Regions from separate parts of the Homo sapiens genome. Here regions 1 and 3 are each reported to be linked to region 2. The links are microRNA targets in miRTarBase. Many come from high-throughput screens and were not tested one by one. Region 2 holds a microRNA gene; each other region holds the end of a gene's coding sequence.
Evidence for each region. Region 2 holds the annotated microRNA hsa-miR-4714-3p (CCAACCUAGGUGGUCAGAGUUG, at 1,372-1,393, shown strand). A microRNA usually pairs through its seed, bases 2 to 8, with sites in the 3' UTR of a target mRNA and lowers its output. Matches are read on the target gene's strand: a 7mer-m8 pairs with bases 2 to 8, a 7mer-A1 pairs with bases 2 to 7 and ends in A, and an 8mer does both.

Region 1 (7,654 bases), not on the chromosome of region 2:
ATGTGATAACTACTGTATTTTATAGTTTGTATGAGATGGGTTGGATATGAGATTCAACTAGGGAAAACATAGTAATTTGTTATTTTTATTTGATGTCAGAAATTATTTTAGAGCAACTCCCATCCTTCTCTCCATCGTGTTCCTCCATAATGGAAGAAGAAAAGGTGTTGAGTCAGGAAGTTACAGTTAGATTAGTACAGAGCCATTGAACTAACCATAAATGGACACTTAATAGCCATTCCTTTAATCTAGAGACCCTTCTGACTTGTGGAAGCAAAAGGAAGCAGTGCTGACACCCACAAGAATTTAAGGAACTGTAAAACTAGAATTTGTTCACATGTTTCATTTCTATGTCTCCTGAAGCTGTCCAATGGCAAGTATTGGGATGGAAAACTCTGTAAACCTGTATCAAAGACTTTGTAAAAATATTGGGGTGACTTAAGATCTTGACAAAGAGAAGGCTGGTGAGCATCTGTTGAACAGCATGAGCCTTTGGAAGGGGTACTTTTGTAAAGAACATCTTTAAACTTTTTAAAAACATTTTGTATTATTTGTTAGAATTATTTTCTGAGATCAAGATATCAGTCTAGCTTATCATTGCCAAAGTCGTGGGTTTTGTTTTTTTTGTGTGTTTGTTTTGAGACAGAGTCTCACTCACTCTGTCACCCAGGCTGTAGTGCAGTGGCGTGATCTTGGTTCACTGCAACCTCCATCCCCTGGGTTCAAGTGATTCTCCTGTCTCAGCTTCTCGATTAGCTGAGCTTACAGATGCATGCCACAACACCCAGCTAATTTTTGTATCTTTAGTAGAGGCGGGATTTCGCCATGTGGGCCATGCTGTTCTCAAATGCCTGGCCTCAAGCCTTGGCCTCCCAAAGTGTTGGAATTACAGGCATGAGCCACTGTGCCTGGCCTGTAGTGTTCTTATTATATTCAGGGAAAAAGGCCCTTTGTGATAAAGATTGCAATTTTTTTTTTCTCTGTATGTCATTTGTCTTTTGATTTTATTTATGGTGGTTTTTGTCAAGCAGACATTTTTTATTTCTGTTTAATTTGTCAATCTTTTATAGCTTTCTGCTTTCAGATAGTTTAAAAAGGTACTCTTCCCAGCTGGGTGCGGTGGCTCACGCCTGTAATCCCAGCACTTTGGGAGGCCAAGGCGGGCAGATCACCTGAGGTGAGGAGTTTGAGACCAGCCTGGCCAACATGGCAAAACCCCATCTCTACCAAAATACAAAATTTAATCAGGCACGGTGGTGTGTGCCTGTAGTCCCAGCTACTTGGGAGGCTGAGATAAGAGAATTGCTTGAACCCGGGAGGTGGAGGTTGCAGTGGGCTGAGATCATGCCATTGCATTCCAGCCTGGCTTTGTCTTAAAATAAATAAATAAATAAAAAGGTACCCTTCCCCACCTACCTCCGTCCAGAATTATAAAAGTGTTTTTCCATGGCATTTTTATAGTAGAGTTTTTTAAAAAATACTTTTACATTTAAATCTTTTGATCCATCTAGAATTTGTTTTGGTAAGGTATTGGTCTGACTTTTTTCCCCCTGAGATGGTTATATAGTTGTCCAACATCATTTATTTAATAATACAATAACTGTTTTTGATATGGCACTTTTATCAGATGCTAAATTTCTATATATATTGGGGTTATTTCTAGTCTTCTGTTTCATTGATATATCTGTCATTCGTGTGCCAATACCATGCTGTCTTAATTTGTTTATAGATTTGTAAGTATGCTAATTTCTGATAAGGTATCTTTGATATGTTTTCTTTAGGTGCTGTTTTGTCATGGGTCTGTCTATTATGCAAATAATTAAAGTATTTTTACTTTATTTAGTGACAGATTTAACCATATTATATTTTTCTTTATTAAAATTTTTCATGGAAATTAGGATGAAGTAATGGATTATGGGTACACTGTAATTTACCTAATTATATCTAGTGTGGTATATTTAGTTGCTTCCTATTTTATTATTATAACTAATGCTACAAAGGTTATCTTAGTCATAAAACTCCTACTATGTTTAGGATTATTTACTTAATGTAACAGCATAGAAGTGAAATTTTTGGGTCAGTGATTGTGAACATATTTAAAGCTCAATATTTATTGCCACGTTGCTTTTCAAACAGATCATATTGGTTTAGACTGCTATATATACACACACATATATATATAAATGTTGTATTACAGTTTTATTTTTACTTTATTTTTATTACCTTTTTAGGTTTCTTGTGATCAGCCCTTACTGAAAGAAGGATATAAAAGTGCCCAAAAGCGGGCCCCTCAAGGGGAGGCAACCACAGTCTCTGAATATTTCTTCAATGATATCTTCATTGAAGTGGATGAAACAGAATAAAACAATCTTTTCTCTTTTTCTTTTTTAAATTAGGTCTAGGATTTCCAGAGTCAATTACATCAACAAAACAGTATTTAGAGCAAAATATCACTGTCTTATTTTTCTTTAGGTTGATTTTGAATACTTAATGAGCTTGATTTGAAGCTTTTATAATCAGTGGAAAACATTTCTGAGGTTCCTTTCATTCTGACTGATTCAGCATTTTGCAAATAGCAAGCAATTAAGACTGCTTTCTCAGACAGAAATAACAACTCTTGTTTACATTTTGACTCTTCCTGTGCTAAGCACACATGGACATTTGGGAATGTTGTGGATATATGTCTCTGTATGAATTGCAGTGCAGACAGATTTGGGGGTTAATTGTATCATATTTAACATTTAGCAACTTCTTTTGTGAAGATTTTTTATTTTTAGGGGGAGATGATGAAGGATGAAGGCTTTTTCATTTGCTTCTAAGTACAGTCATGTATCACATAATGAAGTTTAAGTCAATGATGGACCACATATATTACAGTGGTCCCATGCAATTAAAATGGAGATAAATTCCTATCAACTAGTGACATTATAGCCATCATAACACAGTGCATTGCTTTTTTATGTTTAGATATGTTTAGATACACAAATACTTACTATTGTGTTACAACTGCCTACAGTATTCAGCATAGTAACACATTGTAGAGGTTTGTAGCCGAGGAGCAATAGGCTATACCACATAGCCTCAGTCTGTACGGTGTGTAGCAGCCTGTACCATCTCAGTGTTTGTAAGTACACTCTGCGTTGTTTCACACAAGATCACCTAACAAGGCAATTCTTAGAACATGTAGTTAAGGGACACGTGACTATATGTGAAAACAAATTGTCAAACTTCACTTTAGTATGGCAAATGTTAAAGAACTTTTCTATTATCAGCTGTTTGTCTGACTGAAAAATACATATTTTTCTAATTCATGGTGATGTAACATTAGTCCTAATTGAAAAACTAGTATTTAAACATAATTATTTATAAAGATGACACATCAAAGGGCTTATTTATTTTTAAATTTTTTATTTAAAAGGATATTCAGTTTTAGCTATTTTTACCCCTCAGATTGTAGATAAAGAAGGCATTAAATTTATGTTTGTCTCCTTTTTCTGTTTAATTTTAAAGATATTTAAAATGATATAACTAAAAATGTTTAGCTGGTGTATATGTTTTGAATACCTTTTTCCCCTCAGTTTAGTATATTGACTTTGTACTGTAAATTTTTCTGCTTTTCTTGGATAATCTCAGGATTTTCATGAGGATAGGGGGAACTCAACTTTATTTATGAGACAAAATTTCCATACAAAGCTCAATCTCCTTTATACACCCACAGACATAATATTAGTTTTTAAAAAGCCAATTTCTTCATAGTTTTTTCCCATTAAATTCTCAAGGAACACTTGGATCTTTAAGCACGGAACATAATCATGATGTTAAAAACAGAGAAAATAAGGCTTTATAAAGTTAATGATTATCATCAGTATGAATTTAAGGTTTGTTTTAATTTCAAGATTTGATTTTTTATACGTGTAATTCTATTATCTACCCAAGCAGATCTGTAGTGGTTCCAATTAGACTTCTCAAACAGCAAATTTATCCTGATTTTATTTGAAAAGCCTCTTGGATTGATAGTATAGTAGCTCAGGCATTGGAAACTTTCTGCAAACTGTTTTGGGTTTGCAGGCCAGATGGTCTCTGTGGCAGCTACTCAGCTCTGCAATTTCAGTGTGAAAGAAGCCATAGACAGTACTTGAATGAAGGACTGTGGCTGGATTGGCCTTTTAGTTTGACCCCCTACATTAGGCCCCAAATTTTCTTACCCTGAGGTGCTGATATCTGTATGGATGAGTTATTTGTCACTAAAGTTATGAGTTGTGCCTAAAAGTTAAAACTGTTGACTGTATTATGTAATGATCAGTATTTCAGTTGGGAAGATATTTTAGAGTCTAGATAATTATGTTTGTATATTGAAAAAATGGTGGCCAGTTTTTAAGTTCCTTAATAGAAGAGAATTATGTCTCAGCACATATAACAGTAATGCTAATTTATTGAAACTACTGCTGTTAGAGCACTTCTTATTCATTGTCTTTTAGTGAAATTTATGGCGTAACACTTTGTCAGAGAGGAGGCTATATAATTCGGAGCGGAAATTGTCTATAAGTAGGCATTTATTTCATGATTGATATGTCACAGAAATCATGGTAGTAAATCACATTGCTATTTGAATACCCTGTTTTTGTAAGTTTTTAAAACTCATATTCTGAAAAGATTTCATTCTCTTAGTGTTAGCTTGGGAGTTAGATTGCCATGATTAAACTATTATTTATCCTTGTGTAATATTAGTTTTTAACTTTAACATCTGTTTCTTTTTAATCTATAATGAGCTAGTTTTATGGAAAATGGAATTTCTTACTATATAAAGAATACAGAGACTCATTGTATTAGAGAATCAAGTCAGCCAGCTAAAGTATCCTACTGTTAAATCCTTAAACCTAATTTTGGAAAAGAGAAAGTTAATCAATGTATTTACCTTACATGTTGGAAAGAACTATGTTAGGTCTGATTCATGTGAAGAAGATGTTGCAAAGGATTTATTTCACAAATTTTAAAGGAGATATGAGTAAAAGTTTTTATCTTTTCTTGACTTTTTCTCCTGAACACTTATGTCTTAGCAAGTGGTCAACATGAGGATTTGAACGCCTAATTGTTGGTAAATGGTTGAGGCATGACAAAAATATTAATATCCACTGTTTACCATCATGTTATTTGAAACAAAAGTGACCATGTATACTATCTTGCTTGAAGAAGTCTTTGACAGAAAAAGCAATATCATGTCATTTATAAATTTTCTTGTTCTAAAGAAAGCAGTTATATATATATATAAATTATGTAAATAAAAGTTATTTTATATCATTTCTGTTGTGTCCTTTTAAGATGACTAAATAAAGAATTGGCTGGGTATCGTGGCTTACACCTGTAATCCCAGCACTTTCGGAGGCCGAGGTGGGAGGATTGCTTGAGCCCAGGAGTTCAAGACCAGCCTGGGCAACATAATGAGACCTCATCTCTACAAAAAAATTAAAAATCAGCCAACTGTGGTGGTGTGTGCTTTTGGTCCCAGTTACTCAGGAGGCTGGGATGAGAGGTTCGCTTGAGCCCAGGAGGAGGTTGAGGCTGCAGTGAGCTGTGATTGCCCCACCACACTCCAGCCTGGATGACAGAAGAAGACCCTGTCTTTGTGGGGAGGAGACAAATTTTTGACAGGTGTGCATGTCGTTATTTCAAAGCTGTAGGAGTCTGCAATGTGATTGTCCTAATAGTATTTGGAAGAGACTCCACACAGCATCTCTGTTTGCTGCAGCATCGCATCCTGAATCTGCTGGAGAGCCCTGTCTTACATTGGGTTTCACTAAAAATCGGCAGTCTTACGGGCTACCCAGTAAGTAGGTTGGGGTAGTATTCCCAAATATATTTTATCTCAAACTCAAAGGGCGACTTCAAACATTGTTGCTTCTGTCTTCATGGTGACCAGTGCAAGGTGCAGAATCTTGTCTCCCTCTCCCCACTGCCTTTGTTTAAGAGATGGGGTTTCGCTTTGTTGCCCAGGCTGGAGTGTGGTGGCGTGATCATAGCTCACTGCAGCCTCGAACTTCTGGGTGCGAGCAATCCTCCCAGGTAGGTGAGCCGTCATGCCTGGGTAGCTTGTTTCTTCCCTTCAAAAATAGATCCCATGTCCTCAGACCACTAGACCCTTAGGAGATTCACCTATGTGGCAGGCTCCTGAACTTTAACAGTATTTACCTCCCAACCTCTTATATATGTATGTCTTCCTAAGACATCTAGCTGCTTGCTAATTCGTGCTTTCCAGCTCCAGTTAGCATAATGTTATACATGTCACATTTCATTTTTTTGTCAAAAATCAAGAAAATAAAAGTCTCTCCAGACTATATAATGAAAGAAAATGAGGGTATTCATATCACTCTGAAGTAAGACAGTAAAATCAGTTGTCCCTGCCACAATAATTCAAGTTCTTTTAATTTTTCTTACTGGAATGGAAAATGTTGCATTTTTTTCATGGCACTAGCTTTATTCCAGGTATTAGGAGTTGTGTTGATTTGGTCTAATAAAGGTACCAATCGCCAACTGCAGCTGTGATTGACATCATTTGTTAAATCTGTGATAACTTATTGTCATTCCCCAAGACCAGTGGTTCCCAAACTTTATTGCACATCAGACTCACCTGGGAAGCTTTAAAAAGTTTCTGTGTCCAAGTGGTATCCCTTATTGTTAAATCAGTGTCTGGGTGCAGTGGCTCATGCCTGTAATCCCAGCATTTTGGGAGGCTGAGGCGAGACATAGCGAGACCTTATCTCTACAAACAAAACAAAGCAAAAACTAGCAGAACATGGTGGTGTGTGCCTGTGGTCCCAGCTACTTGAGAGGCTGAGGCAGGAAGATTGCTTGAGCCCAGGAGTTCAGGGTTGCAGTGAGGTATGATCGTGCCAGCCTGGGTCACAGAGTGAGACCCTGTTGCTAAAAAACATTAAAAAATAATAGGGCCAGGCACAGTGGCTCACGCCTGTAATCCTAGCACTTTGGGAGGCCGAGATGGGAGGATCGCTTGAGCCCAGGAGTTTGAGACTAGCCTGGGCAACATGGCAAAACCCCTTGTCTACTAAAATGCAAAAATTAGCCAGGTGTGCTAGCACGCGCCTGTGGTCCCAGCTACTGGAGAGGCTGAGGTGGGAGGATCACTTGAGCCCAGAGGTGGAGGTTGCAGTACGCTGATATTGTGCCACTGTACTCCAGCGTGGGTGAAAGAGGGAGACCCTGTCTCAAAATAATTAGAAAACACACACACTCGCAGTGCCTGGGGGTGGGCGTCAGACATCTCCATTTAAAAAAAAAATCTGCAGGTGATCCTAAGGTGTAACACCAACACCAACACACAAAACAAAAAAATGTGAAACATTGTTCATTCGGACCTGTCTGACTTGAACAGCTGGCCAAGCTGGTGAATCAAATGGAAATGTAGTAGGAATCAACAGATCCCACTCACTATGTGGGTCAGAGAATGGGGGTGGTTTAAACCTTCTACTTGGCCTTTCCTTAATGCCTTATCTCATGGGTTAAGGAAACTGTGTGATGATTCTGCTATATCCTACTTCTGTGTATTCTGGGACTGAGGAAATAATTACAGGATGGGCTCCTGTGAGAAGTCAGACCAAGAATCCATCTTTCACGCAACCTCCATTAGCCTTCACTCTGA
Region 2 (7,487 bases):
GACCTCCCCCTGCCCCCATTAAAAAAATTATTTTGAAATACTTGTAGATTCACATGCAGTTTCAAGAAATAATAAAGAGTAATTCCATGCACCATTTTCCTCCAATAGTAACATTTTGTGAAACTAGTACAGTATCACAGCTAGGATATTGACGTTAATATAGTAAGGATATATGTCATCACCACAAAGGTACACCTACTTCCCTTCTATCTCTCCTCTCTCCTTCATGCCTGGTTACAAACTAACCTGTTCTCTCTATATAAAATTTTATCATTTAATAATGTTCTGTAAATAGACTCATAGTATGTAACCTTTTGGAACTGAAGTTTTTCCATCAGCATAATTCCTTATAGATTCATTCAGGTTGCTGTGTTTATCAATAGTTTGTTTCTTTTTATTGCTGAATGGTATTCTGTGGTGTAAATGTACTACATTCCATGAGCATGGCATGTCCCTCCATTTATTTAGTTTTTCTTTGATTTACTTCATTAGCATTTTGTAGTTTTTGTAGTCCTGTGTATGTTTTGGTAGAGTTACACCCTAAGTATTTAATTTCTTTGCTCATTGCCAGTATATAGAGATACAACTTATTGAACTCACTTTTTAGTTTATGCTAGTTTATTACTAATTATCAATACATGCTCAAGATATGTCAACTCCTTTTATTTTTATTAGGTGTCACTTGCTACATTTTGTGGAGAATACCGATGCTGTTGCTAGAAAGTGCTGCTGTCACAAAGTGGGTTTATAGATAGTACCACGCTATCCTTCTTCCTAGGCTAGATTAGAAGTTATTTATGTGCTATATGCACATAGAGTTTTTGATTGGTCTATTGCAAATACTATGGCATCTGAAATTTTTTTTTTTTTTTTTTTTTTTTTTTTTTTTTTGAGATGGAGTCTCCCTTTGTTGCCCAGGCTAGAGTGCAATGGCGCAGTCTCAGCTCACTGCAGCCTCTGGCTTCCGGGTTCAAGCGATTCTCCTGCCTCAGCCTCCCAAGTAGCTGGGATTGCAGGCACCCGCAACCACACCCGGGTAATTTTTGTATTTTTAGTGGAGACAGAGTTTCACCGTGTTGACCAGGCTGGTTTCAAAGTGCTGGGATTACAGGCGTGAGCCACCGTGCCCGGCCCCTGAATCCTATTTTTAAGTATAAAAAGTCTTTTTTCAGCTCTGGATTATGGTGCTGCAAGCTGATATTCTTCTCATGGCAGTAAACAGAGAAGTCCTAGGGGTAATCTTACCCCTCTGGGGAGTCCAGGATATCTGAGCATCTCCCTTTTCTTTTTACTGCTAGAAAGAATTTCTGCTAGTAGAATTTTTATTTTGGCCAACTCTGACCCCTTAGGTTGATGTCAGAATGAGGTGTACCAACCTAGGTGGTCAGAGTTGGCCAAAATACACATTTTCCTGCTGAGCAATTTAGTCTAGGTTAAGTCATACTTGACCATATGCCCTAGTTTAGCGTCCAGTTTGTGAACATTCTTTACCTGAGTTATTGTAATTCTAATCTCTTATGTAAAACTGCAGGTAGTCAGCCCTTTGTCTCCTTCAGTTCTACATCTGCGGATTCCTTCAACTACAGATTAAGAATATTTGGGGGGAAAAACAGTAAAAAAAAATTACAATACAACAATAAAGACAACAAATTTAAAAACTAGTATAACAACTTTTTATACAGCATTTGTATTGGGTATTGTAAGCTAGAGATGGCTGAAAGTCTATGAGACGATGTGCATACGTTATATGCAAGCGCTGCCATTTTATTGCAGAGACTTGAGCATCCAAGGATTTTGTATCCGTGGGAGTCCTGGAACCAATCCCCCTTGGATACTGAGGGATGACTGTATTTACAACATGTCTAGATTTTCGACAACTTGAATTAAACCAGAAAGAATATGAACACACAGAAGTTCATGTGTATATATATATGTGTATGTGTTTAGAAGGGAGCAAGCTGTTAAACATGGGAAATAGTTGCTAGTAGTTTGTAATTTTATGATTACAATTTTAAAATTCAATTTTGCAACTGGAATTTGACTTGATTGGTTAGTGCCTTACAGTAATTAACCTCCAAATCATCAGAATGTCATCTTGTTATTTAGGTAATTGAATCTACTTTTCTTGTATACAGAATGCTTTTTGGAAACAATACACTGTATATCTAGTTTGTACCAAGAACTAATTGTACACAGTCAGATACTTGCAGTTCTTTTGGACTTGAGTTTCTTTATCCTTCTATCAGATGTCACAATTCCCTCTTCCCTTTGTAGCATATGAAAGTAGTTGTGTGTGCACTGTATTTGAGAATGTCAAGTAATAGAATCTCTAGAAAACATTCATGATTTCAGTCCCAGGTAATCCAGAGTTAAAAATAATGTTCATAAGGAAGGGTAGCAAAATTTAGATTTTAATACTTATAGGAGGTGTGTTAATTGGCCCCAGGGCCGCAGGCTTTAGCGTTCAGAGGACTTTAGCCCCAAAGGTTTTGTGGAACTTTTCCAGAGTCCTCACCAGTACATTGGGAATAAATGGAATGCCTTTGGAAGTACTTTGAAGATTGAATTCGATAGTGTTGGTAAAGCAGTCTAGCCTGCTGTGATTGTGCTATTGATGCAAATATTCTCTAGCCTGTATTATTTTTCCTTGGAGCTCAGGAAGTGATCCCCACCCACCTCAAGCAGTAAAGGAAAGAGAGGCAGGAGGGTCTGACCATGTGAGGTGCCCCAATAAAGCATCTGTATTGTAAATCAGGAATGTAGGTATTGGGTTTCCTTAAAACAAAGCACACCTACGTGACCACTAGCTGGAGCACAATGTGGGCTCGGTCTGCTGAAAGAGTCAGTTGGTTGCGGCTGTCTAATCCAATTATGGATGGTCCCAGCGCTCAGCCTTTCAGCTGCTGCCCCTCCCCTGCAGACTCTGCCTCTCTCACCCTCCCTTTTAGGGCTTGGTCTGTGGCTACCCCAGAAATCACGTGCACTCCTAGGCTTCAGCGAGTACAGCCTTGTTAATCTCAGACATGGAAAGCAAGTTGCCTAGGTCTACAGATGAGTATTCAGTTTCCCCACCAGTTGACCTCAGTGCAGGTTTTGTTGGTTCCAGTCATTTGGGGTCAGCACCTGTTTGAAGCCAGGACACTTAGAACAAGGTGGAGGAAAACCTGAGGGTACATACAGTGTGGTTTCCTTGGCTCATCTAATGCAGAGTCAGAATGATTAGCCACATTGCAAATTGTCTTTACTCAGTGGTTTAATTGTTAACCAGGGAGTTAATTTTTTTTTTTTATTAAACAAAGAAGAAAACACCTCTAGATTTTTCTGGGACAGATGGCCCCATTGAAAGAGGCCATGTGCTGCAGCGAATGGCCAGGCCTCGGGTGTGGCAAGTGCCTTCCAGCTCAGTGCTTGCTTTGTGCTCCTTTGCCTATTTGAAGACGTGGATGAATCAAAATCTATAAGCCTATTTCAGTCAAGTATTCTAAGGAACCTGGAAACACAGGGGATTTCTCTGTTGCCTCTAATACAGTGAAAAACCACTGTCTTTTTTTGTTGTTGTTGTTGCATTGGGGGAAGAAAGTCCAGGTTTGCATGTACATTTTCACTCATAGGATTTTTTTTTAGAATAGTTTGGGGAGGACATTGTGCTCTGGCCAATAACTGGGCCAGTGTCTGGTCACAAGATGATCAGGCAGGTGCCTGCATGACTGTAGGACAGAGAACTGGGCAGCTAGAGAGCCTGTGTGGAACGTGAAGCCTTTCCCCACTTTGTTGCCGTCCTAACCTTTTCTCAAGTCATGGAGAATTGATCCTTAGACATTCCTTACCTCTCTCACCCACTTGAGGATTGCTCAGAGCCTGGGTTTCGGATTGAAATAGCACTATTTCTGGTTGGTGACGACATTCTGTGAGCCAGCAATGTAGTTTAAATATCCACAAGAGCGCCCTGGTTCCATCAGCGCCCCTTCGTAATTGGTCATGAGACTTGGACCTCCTTCGGGGCTGGGACTCGGGCAAGGGAGTTGAGTAGAGCTTCTCTTTCTGGGCTCCTGGGAAGGATTCATGGCATAAAAGTGGGACTTCAGCATTCTCTGGGCACACCTGTCTCTGTTTTTGTCCTCTCCTGAATCTTTCTGGCCTGCAGAGCAGAATAAAGTCACTCTGTGCCAACCTGACTTTTGTTCATGACTATATTAGGGGCATGGATAGAAAGTGCCCCCATAGCACTCTCAGATAAAACACCTTCAAACAAACCCAGAAACCCATGCTCACAAAACCACCCACCTTAAATTATGAAACTTTCAGGCTGACTAAATCCTGAAGGCGTTGGAGCGTGAGCAAAGGGAAAATGGTGACACAGAGCTTTGCCCTTCCTAATCCAAATGAAAAGCTCTGTAACCCTCCCCCCACCTTTGCTATCAAGAAATGTTGGACCTTTGGGAAGCAGATGTAGAGTATTGATCCTTAAAACAGAGACCTCTCACCCTAGGTCTCTTAAAACAGAGACCTTAAAACAGAGTATTGATCCTTAAAACAGAGACCTCTCACCCTAGGTCTCTTAAAACAGAGACCTCTCACCACTTTCTAACTGAAGTGGGTTCCACATTGGAAGTACTTTGCAGAAACTTCTATTACCGCAATTACTTTTGCACCAACAAATAGTATCCTCAACTCAGAAGGAAAGAATTGGAACACTCAGCTGGAGGTGTCTGGTAGGGACATGTGTCTGCTTTTTGAATCAGTCGTATATGTTTTTGTTCCTGTGCCTGGAGGCCCTTTGTGGTGTGAGAACATTGAATTTGGAGAGGGAAAGGGAGACAAAAGAGAAATGGGGGTGATGCTTAAGGGAAAGTAGGGTTTTTAGTTTGTTCACCACGCTTGATGGCAGATTTGCCTCTGGATCCTCAGGCCACGTTCCTATGGTGGGTAGGGATCTCTCTCTCTCTCTCTCTCTCTCTCTCTGTGTGTGTGTGTGTGTGTGTGTGTGTGTGTAAATAGTGATTTCTCTAAGTTAATAAAGAATGTGGGGTGACCTCCTACACATGCCCGTATGCTATTGTGTAGGAACAAATGCATGGTAGGAATGGGTAGACTCTAATCTGAAAGCATCAAGTTGTATGCATCTTCTGCAATTAGGAATCTGCTCACCAGCACGAGTGCTGTGGTTTCTGTAGTTCTGGGATTCAGAGGAGCATTTTAAAGATGTAGGATGTTAGAGGAGGAGGTGCAGGGATCTCCCCTTGGGTAAAGAGTGGGAGACAGTCTCTGAGTCATAATCTGGGACCAGTGGAAGGTCAAAGGGAAGAACTGTCCTGTTGTCTGCTAAGTCACAGGCTTCCTTCCTGTTCTCTGAGCCCTGTCACTTACCCAAGGTGCAGCAACAATTAGTGTCTGTTTACACATAACAGACATCTCTTTCATAAAATAATTTTTAAGGCATTTGTTTGGTAGAAGCTTCCCTGTTTGGGGGAGTCTTTTCCCTGAATGCATGTAAATAACTTCACAGTTTGCGCAAGTTTGCAAACGGTCTATACTGCTCAGCCTTGATTGGGCTACCCAAGGATGCGCCCGCCCTGCTGAGGTCTGACAGCTCTGGGAGGCCAGTGAGGCCTGTCCTAATCCCTGTTCTGGCCGGTGATTCAGCTCCAGGTGGAGGCTGTGCAGAAACAGCCCCGGTCATCTTTGTGTGAAATACATTTGTCGTCTTCATTTTCTTTTTTCTTCTGCTGGTATCTTCATGGTTTTCAGCAAAACTGTGTACATTACATTTTTTTCTTTACCATTTCTCCGTAGTTATTTCTAGCATTTTTTTTTCAGCTGATGAAAGCAAATGAAGAATTTTTATGCTCCATAGTCAGTCAAACATTGATTTCTCTGACTTTTAACTTAGAAAGTCATTTTGCAGTGGCTTGCGTGTGTGTATTTAGACTGTGCTTCTACAAAAAAGCACACGTAGGCTTATGGCTCAGTTTACTTGTTCCAGCTCACTTTCCTGTTCATTTACCTTCTTGTAAAATGGAAAGACAAACATACCTTAAACTTAACTCAGATCGTGATTGCCAACTTTGTTCTCTGTGTGTAAGTAGTTATATTATTCCTAGGTTATGGCATCTTGATTTATCTTTGAAAGAAGAAAACCCTCACTGAGTTGACAGGGACACATTGTTCTAGGCTTCTACAATTGTGCTGATGACGCTTTTTCCCATTGGAATGACAGGGATGATAAGGTCGGCTGGCTAGCCTTTTTTTAAAATGTAGAAAACCACAACTTTAATTTATAGCATCATCATTTTCCTTATGTATGTAGTATGTTTCAAAAATAATCCAATGTCAGATTCTTGCTTCTGTGATCAAGGTCTTGTTTTTGCCCTTTCTTTGCTCACCACCTCCCTGCCCCTGACGCCGAGTCCTCGCCTTAGAGGAGGTGGTCAGCTTATATTGCAACATTGAAAATGTTATACCTTACAAAGAAGGTGATATGCCATTTCTTAATTATAATGATGTGCAACAGTGACTTCTGATGTAGACCTTTAACATTGGGCCACGCAGCTTTTTCTTTGGAGGAGGGGCATTTCAAATTGGATGATGCTCTTATAGTTTAATAAAGAAACAAGCAAACAAAATAGGCTATACAGGGCATGTGTTCTTAAACTCTGTGACAGTGGAGGTGAACCCAGGGCCCTTTCATGGCCTTGGGAGGGTCCTCAGCTTTGGGGGCGAGTTATCTGGGTGGAAAAGCACCATGGGAGGAAGAAGTCAGAGAGGCGGGTTGCTGGAGCTCAGAGAATAAAAGCAAGTCTCTGCCCTGAAAATGGCCCTGATTTGCTTCAGATGTACTCTGTCTGCCAACATTTAGTGTCTGTGACTTAGCCAAAGGAAATGTACATTAACTGTTCAGTTTCTATGTAGTTTGTGCTCTAGGATTTTGCCTCCGGAGGATTTCTGTGAAGGAAGCTCTGTTCAAGTGGCTCTGTTCCACTTGGGTTTGGAAAGAGGCCGGGACAGGTGATTTCGAAGGAAGGATGAGGACAATGGAGGAGATGGGCTTGGTCATTGCAGTGTGTGAGGTGGCCCAGCTTATCTGGCATTTTGGGGTACTATATGTGCCATATGAGGTGGGTATGGGTGTTTGAAGGGAAAGGGGGTGGCCTGGGCAACTTGTGTCCTTGCCTAGAAAGATCATCACTCTTTTTATTTAAAAGAAACATGTGAAAGAGCCATCAGGGATAGTTTTGTCCTCCCTCTTCTTACAAGTGATCATTCCCTTGGTAGGGCAGTGCCAGACCCTGCTTGTGAGCACAGAAAACGCCATAAGCTCCTCATGAAAGCATGTCTGGGGAAGCTTATCTCAAATGCAGTTTGCACTTGCAAAGGTCCTGTGGTATAGCGGGGGAGCAGGGGAGATGGAGTCTGGGAGCGGTGAAGGCTGGGTCACTAGCTGGCTTTGTAGCCTCTGGGCGTGTTGTTTTTATCCTCAGAGGGGCCAC
Region 3 (7,654 bases), not on the chromosome of region 2:
GCTCACTGCAACCTCCGCCTCCTGGGTTCAAGAGATTGTCATCTCATGCCTCAGCCTCCCAAGTAGCTGTAAGTACAGGCACGTGCCACCATACCTAATTTTTATATTTTTAGTAGAGACAGTTTTGCCATGTTGGCCAGGCTGGTCTCGAACTCCTGACCTCATGTGATCCACCTGCCTTGGCCTCCCAAAGTGTTGGGATTACAGGCATAAGCCACCACACCCAGCCAGAACTATTACTTCTTTTATCTCTGTAGAAACTGCACTGGATAACTTTTTTCCTCTTTTTTGGCGACAGTCTTACTCTGTCACCCAGGCTGGAGTGCAGTGGCGCGATCTCGGCTCACAGCAACCTCTGCCTTCCAGGTTCAAGGAAATCTCATGCCTCAACATCCCGAGTAGCTGGGATTACAGGTGTGCACCACCATGCCCGGCTAATTTTTGTATTTTTAGTAGAGAGGGGGTTTTACCATGTTGGCCAGGCTTGTTTCAAACTCCTGACCTCTAGTGATCCACCCACCTCAGCCTCCCAAAGTGCTGGGATTACAGGTGTTAGCCACCATGCACAGCCGAGAACTTTCTTTTATTTGGACTCCTGATTTTAGAATACCATGGTTTCTTTTAAAAAAAAAAAAAAGTACGATTATTAACACTGATTAATAACACATGAACCAAACCCACTTAATATCATTATTAAAAACAGGCTGGGCACAGTGGCTTATGCCTGTAATCCCAGCACCTTCGGAGGCTGTGATGGGAGGATTGCTTGGGCCCAGGAGTTTGAGACCAGTCTAGGCAACATAGTGAGAGCTCTGTCTCTACAAAAAATACAAAAATTAGCCAGGTGTGGTGGTGAGCACTTGCAGACCAGCTACTTGGGAGGCTGAAGTGGGAGGACTGCTTGAGCCAAGGAGGTCCAGGCTGTAGTGAGTTGAGATTGTGCCATTGCACTCTAGCCTGGGCTCAAAACAAACCCCAAAAAACAAAACCAAACATCAATAGAACTACATAGGGACAACAGCAAATACAAATCTTTAAACACTTCATGATGTGGCCGGAATGAGTACAAGTATGCAATTCAATGATTCCAACATTTGATGGTGACTGTGAATTATTACATATTTATTACACATAAATGAGTTTAAATTTTATTTCCAAACTGCATGCAGGGACTTTATTATTACTATGAATTTTTTTTTGAGAGTTTCACTCGTTGCCCAGGCTGAAGTGCAATGGCGCAATCTCGGCTCACTGCAACCTCTACCTCCTGGGATCAAGTGATTCTCATCTCAGCCTCCTGAGTAGCTGGGATTACAGGTACCCACCACCACGCCCGGCTAATTTTTGGTATTTTTAGTAGAGACGGGGTTTCACCATGTTGGCCAGGCTGGTCTCAAACTCCTGACCTTGTGATTCGCCCACCTTGGCCTCCCAAAGTGCTGGGATTACAGGCGTGAGCCACCATGCCTGGCCAAAACCTTTGATTTTTAAAAAGGCGTTTCTTGAAGTACCTTATTAAACATTTGATTTGAAGGAAACTGTGCATGTCTAACATACTTGCCTTTTACAGAAAGCTGGCTAGCCAAAAATGTATCATCAACTATCGATTTTATTTTCAGAAGTGGACTGTCTCTTAAATGAGACAGCATAAAGTATGGACTTGTAGAAGCTGAACGAGTAAATCATGAGTGTAACTGATAACATGTAAGTCCATTCTTCGTATAAACTGCTAGAGAGTGTTTCAGACCATCACTGATGTCTGTGATAAAGAGCACCAAAGCATCACAGTCCAACTTTTTTTTTAAGCGCCAAGTTCAAACAAGTGACCAATAATAATGGTTGGTCCTTGAAGGTCTTTTACCAGAGGCCTTTTCTAATCACTTCGTAACACTTCTGAGATGTACATGGCTCCTGAAACTTGAAAACAAAGCCACAAAATGAACATTAACATTTCTTTAGGGGAAAATGCTATCTAATTTTCCCCTCGTTTGAATTAACCAAAAAAAAAAAAAAAGCCTATTTCTTTTACAAATCTTCTGAATAACGGGTTTTAAGAGCAGGCCAGGCGCGGTGGCTCACGCCTGTAATCACAGCACTTTGGGAAGCTGAGGTGGGCGGATCACGAGGTGAGGAGTTCGAGACCAGCCTGCCAGCCTGGCCAACATGATGAAGCCCTGTCTATATTAAAAATACAAAAAAAATCAGCCTGGTATGGTGGTGGTGCCTGTAATCCCAGCTACTCGGGAGGCTGAGGCAGGAGAATCGCTTGAACCCAGGAGGCGGAGGTTGCAGTGAGCCGAAATCACACCACTGCACTCCAGCCTGAGCGACAAGAGCAAGACTCTGTCTTAAGAAAAAAAAGAGCAAAGGACACACCACATCTGCATAAATCCAAGTGTGTTAAGGAACATAATCATGTTGATTGTATCCTGATTCTAGCAGGTGAAGGACTAAGCACTCAACTTGTATTTGGAGGAGAAGCAAGTGTCATGATGGAGCATGTCTTATATGGCAATTCAAAACAGTATGATTCTGATGCGAGTGAGAACTAAATGTTGGACAGGCTTTTTATACAAATCCCACCTGCATGATCCAGAACAATATTCTTACAGATTCAATGCAGACTCCACCAATGGGTTAGCTAGACATCAACAGGCTCACTTTCTTTTTTTCTTTTTTTTTTTTTGAGACAAGAGTTTCACTCTGTCTTGCAGGCTGGAGTGCAATGGTATGATCTCAGCTCACTGCAACCTCTGCCTCCTGGGTTCAAGCAATTCTCCTGCCTCAACCTCCCAAGTAGCTGGGATTGCAGGCGTCCACCCAGCACTCCTGGCTAATTTCTGTATTTTTAGTAGAGATGGAGTTTCACCATGTTGACCAGTCTGGTCTTGAACTCCTGACCTCAGGTAATCCACCCGCCTGGGCCTCCTAAAGTGCTGGGATTACAGGTGTGAGCCACCGCGCCTGGCCCATTTTCTTAATGTAAGTCCACAATATGTCATTAGGGGAGAATGACTTTGGCAAACTCATATGCTTCAAAGGCAGAAAGACATGTACTAAGAAGGCAGTTAGAGCTGGAAAATTCTTGACATAATTACAACTTTAGCAAGAGAATAAAAATAGATTTTAAAAGTGTGTGCATGTGGGGAGGTGACAGAATATCTTTATATGTACTTTAAGAAGCTGACGCGTTATCCAGACACAAAAGATAACATTCTCATCAAAACAGGCCAAGATGAAACACCAGGGGCACTCTTCACAGAAATTAAGTGGATGCTTCTGGCGCCAAATGTCTTTGCCTGGTTCTTCCTGGCATTTCTGCTTGACTCCTTCCCCCTGTATCATTCTCAAATCCCCAGCCTTTCCACTGGGCAAAGCCACTCTCTTCTCCCTCAGGCTCTGAAGAGATAACACAAATGTATGGACACTTTTTGTCCTTCAATTAAAAAACCTGCTGGAAGCTCCAGTGATGTTAAGAATTAACTGGTAGTTCTTTATCTTAGCTAGGCTTATGTATTCCAAATTTTGCCTGTTTTCTTGGAATTATATGAATTTCCTTATTAAACATTTGATTTGAAGGAAACTGTGCATGTCTATTAATTACCCATGAGGTACATGTGTATTTCTGAAATTTCTCCTTCAGTCTCACCTGAGTTTAATTTTTGCCTAAGATGTTTAGAGTTCCTGAGGTGCTTCTCTAGGCTAAAATTTAAAGATTTTTTTTTAAAAAAGCAAATAAAAGTAAATGAATGGCTAAAAGATAAGGTTAAATTTTCTAGGCTGGGCATGGTGGCTCACACCTATAATACTAACACTTTGAGAGGCTGAGGCGGGAGGATCACTTGAACCCAAAAGTTCGAGACCAGCCTGGGTAACATAGTGAGACCTCATCTCTACAAAAAAAATTTTTAAAACAGAATTAGCCGAGTATGGTGGCACATGCCTGTAGTCCCAGCTAATCAAGAGGCTGAGGTGGAATGATTGCTTGAGCCTGGGAGGCAGAGGCTGCAGTGAGCTGAGATCATGCTGCTGCACTCCAGCCTGGGTGAAAGAGGGAGACCCTGTCTCAAAAAAAAATTTCCTTAAGTTTCTTTTTTTTGGTGGGGGTAGGAATGCAGTAGAGAAACAAAAACACTGCACAAAGGGTGCAGTGTTCTACTATTCATCTAAATAATGGAGAACTGGCATTTTACAATTAAGATATAAAAAATATTCATACTTTCAGAATTTCCAAGTCAGAGGTGGCTTACAACAGCTTTCATTAGAAAAGGGTGAGACGCCCAAATAAAATGCTCCCTGGTGGAACAAAGTCCCCTTTAAACCTTTACCAAGCTCTTTCTCAGAAGCTCACAAAACTTAAGACAATGTGAACATGATGAGAAAGCAAAGCTCTCCAACATAAGGCTGAAAATGACAATAAAAGACTGCAATAAAAGACTAGTGGGATGAACATGAATGCTTGTCAGTGACAAACACATTATGCCTACAAAGAATAAATACTGCACTTCTCTTTAGGTCTATTTACAGACAGGACCCCATGACCTTTCAGGCATAAACCTCCACTGGCAGAAGTAAGAATTTAATCACAAAACTTCTATGGTAAATTATAAAAAATAAGAAATTTGGATTTAGGCCTTCTGCCATTTCCAATACAAGTAGCTTTGAGTATTCTTGGTTGACAAGGGAATGTTTGCATTTCTAATGTTAACAAAGAAAATATCCACCACTGGCTTCTTAACCAGACGGAAGCGGGCAGGTTTCTGGATAGAGGCTTAAGGCAAATCAAACAGGTTCACAACTAAGCAGCCTATTAGGGATTCCAGGCATGGCTTTGCTTTCTGAGGGACAGCTCCATATCATCTCTAGCCAGGTTTTCCACATTGCTACCAAACTGGGGACACGTTTCTGTATCAGGCTTTTGAAAGAACTTTAAGTTATATACATATACCATCAAAGCATATACTGGTGATGCTTGATATTTAAAGGAATCCTACAGTGAATCATTTATTTCCTTTGAAAATAAGGTTTTCAAAAATTGGCTACAACTCTGATCGCATGAATGAGATTCAAAGATTTCTCACATAAAAGAAAGATCTCAACCTCCTTCTACTGTGAACTTGCTTTCCAAGACTAAAAACTGGTATCTCCTCTTCAGTCTCCTTACACATCTGAAATCGTTCCTGCAATATGAGAGGCACTTTTATTAGGTGTAGCATCTATTAAAAACTCTAAAGCCAGGGTAGAATTTGCTGAACAAAGTAATAGCACTAGCCTAATAGGCATTATTTATAAGGACTTTTTCCCCTTTAATATAAAAGTATAACTACAGCAGTTCAATGTACAAATACAAAAAAAGTTCTCATACTAAAAAAAAAAAAGTACCATAATACTGTACATACAAAAACTGTTCAACAAGAATGATTTAAATATGTCTGTTCTTCTCCAGATCTGGAAGACACAAATGTAAAGTTCTGCAACTGTATTATTGCTAAGAACATGTGCCTGGGAACACTGTGTTTCCCTTTCTCTCCCTCAGCCCAGCCCCGCCTCCAGAGTCCCCTGAGCTTGGATCATGAGCCAACAGCATCCCTGAAGATAACCAGAGCCAAATGTTTACTCAATGGAAGTCATTATTCAGTGAGCTGCTGCTTACCATAAACTATGAAAAGCACAGGTTTTAAGCCCGCCAGGATTAAATCCAGACGGAGGTCTTCCCATCCCCTGATTTGCTACTGGCAGTGCTTTTGTTGGACCCAGCTTTGGACCCCACTTTGGCCTTCTTCTCCCGGGGACCATGAGGGTTGTTTTGGTGACTGTAGGCCTGAACTGCCAGATCCAAGCGTTCCTGAGCCATCCTGATCTCCCGCTGCAGAGCCTCCAGGTCAGCTGGGAGGTTCTCCTCATGGCTGCCATACTGCTGTTCCTGGGCTGTGTTGGCCTTGTTTTGCTTGTAGGCGATCTTAGCATTGGACAGTTCGGTGTACTGGATTTGATCTGGTTTGACAGCAATGTTATAGCCAGGGGGAGCAGATGGTGTATTCCAAGTGAAAGGATAATTATAAGCACCCGGATCCTCAAGTTCCCTCCTTTTACTGTTTAGTGAGTCTCGAATGGTCCCAAACCCTAAATGAAGCATCTCCCAAATGTTAAGCAAGAGGCAAAGGCCTGTAACACCATACATTATCAGAAGGAAGATGGTCTTTTCAGTGGGTCTAGAAATAAAGCAGTCTATCTTATGAGGACAAGGAAGTCTGCTGCACACATAAAACGGGTGGACTTGGAAGCCATACAGAAAATACTGCCCTATCAGAAAACCCACCTCAAACACGGTCCTTGCCAGCAACTGCAGCACATAGATTTTCATGAGCCCATCTTCCCGAATCCGTCGTCGGCCATCATGCTTAGGTTTGGGTTGGCTCTGCTCTTTATTTTCCTTATCACTTTCTAACTCCATCTCTGGATACATCATAGGATCCTCTTCGTTGTCCTCCTCCGTTTCTTCCAGAGCCCGGTGTTGTTTCCAGCGCATTGCATAGGGCTTGCTCCGAGCTGCCTTCTTGTCTGCTTCACCGTGCTCCATTTTGGCAATCTTGTGGATAGCATAGCCCAGGTACATCACAGAGGGAGTTGCCACCAGGATGATCTGGAACACCCAGAAGCGTACATGGGAGAGAGGTGCAAACGCATCATAACAGACATTCTCACAGCCCGGCTGTTCTGTGTTGCACACAAATTTGCTTTGCTCATCGTAATAGATGGATTCTCCTCCTACAGCTGTAAGGACGATCCGGAAGACAATCAGAACAGTGAGCCAGATCTTCCCCACAAATGTGGAATGGTTGTGAATCTCCTCTAGCAGGCGAGTCAGGAAGCTCCAACTCATGGTGATTGAATTGGTATGCCCTGATAAAAGTGGAAAAATACCAAAATAAAATCAACAAATATTAAATCTTAATTTAATTACTAATTATGATATCTCTAGGAACTACTGCTTTGAATACTTGAAATCTAACCTCAAGGTTCACAGTGGAACAAATGTTAGAATAAACAGCATCTCAGTTGGGTAGGGTGGCTCACGCCTGTAATCCCAGCACTTTGGGAGGCCAAGGCGGGCAGATTAGTTGAGGTCAGGAGTTAAAGACCAGCCTGGTCAACATGGTGAAACTCCGTCTCTACAAAAATACAAAAATTACCCGGGCACGGTGGTGTGCACCTGTAATCCCAGCAGCTCAGGAGGCTGAGACAGGAGAATTGCTTGAACAGAGCAAGACTCCATCTCAAAAAAAAAGAATAAACAGCATCTCACTCTCTACTATCTTCAAGAAGGTCAATTCACCTCAGTCAACACCTGTTGGCCCCACAAGGTCCCAGAAAGTATGGATTGCTTTCATATCTCCTCTGGTTTAAAAGGTAAACTTGTAGCTACTATTTACTGAGATATTTCTCAGACCTTGGTTCTTCTGTTTGTTTTTTTTTTTTTTTTTTGAGACAGTTTCCCTCTTTCGCTCAGGCTGCAGTGCAGTGGCGTGATCTTGGCTCACTGCAACCTCCGCCTCCCAGGTTCAAGTGATTCTTGTGCCTCAGCCTCCCGAGTATCTGGGATTACAGTCATGCACCATCATTTTTGTATTTTTAGTAGAGATGGGGTTTCACC

Region 1: the mRNA of BDP1 is a reported target of hsa-miR-4714-3p. Seed matches in the 3' UTR shown: 8mer at 2,470-2,477.
Region 3: the mRNA of GJC1 is a reported target of hsa-miR-4714-3p. Seed matches in the 3' UTR shown: 7mer-A1 at 5,096-5,102 and 7mer-A1 at 2,785-2,791.

The regions. Positions count from the first base shown.
Region 1 is chr5:71,562,523-71,570,176 of GRCh38, forward strand. It overlaps BDP1 (BDP1 general transcription factor IIIB subunit), which reads left to right. Exons shown (of 39, transcript NM_018429.3): 39 at 2,232-5,298. The coding sequence ends at 2,363. Among named protein-coding and RNA genes, the nearest start is that of MCCC2, 21 kb to the right of the region's middle.
Region 2 is chr15:98,783,102-98,790,588 of GRCh38, forward strand. It overlaps MIR4714 (microRNA 4714), which reads left to right and starts at 1,325; the gene lies at 1,325-1,401. All of the region lies in intron 2 of IGF1R (insulin like growth factor 1 receptor), which reads left to right. LOC124903560 (a long non-coding RNA gene) reads right to left here and starts at 852. Exons shown (of 2, transcript XR_007064772.1): 1 at 1-852.
Region 3 is chr17:44,798,935-44,806,588 of GRCh38, forward strand. It overlaps GJC1 (gap junction protein gamma 1), which reads right to left. Exons shown (of 3, transcript NM_005497.4): 3 at 1-6,903. The coding sequence starts at 6,883. The coding sequence ends at 5,693. Among named protein-coding and RNA genes, the nearest start is that of GJC1, 28 kb to the right of the region's middle.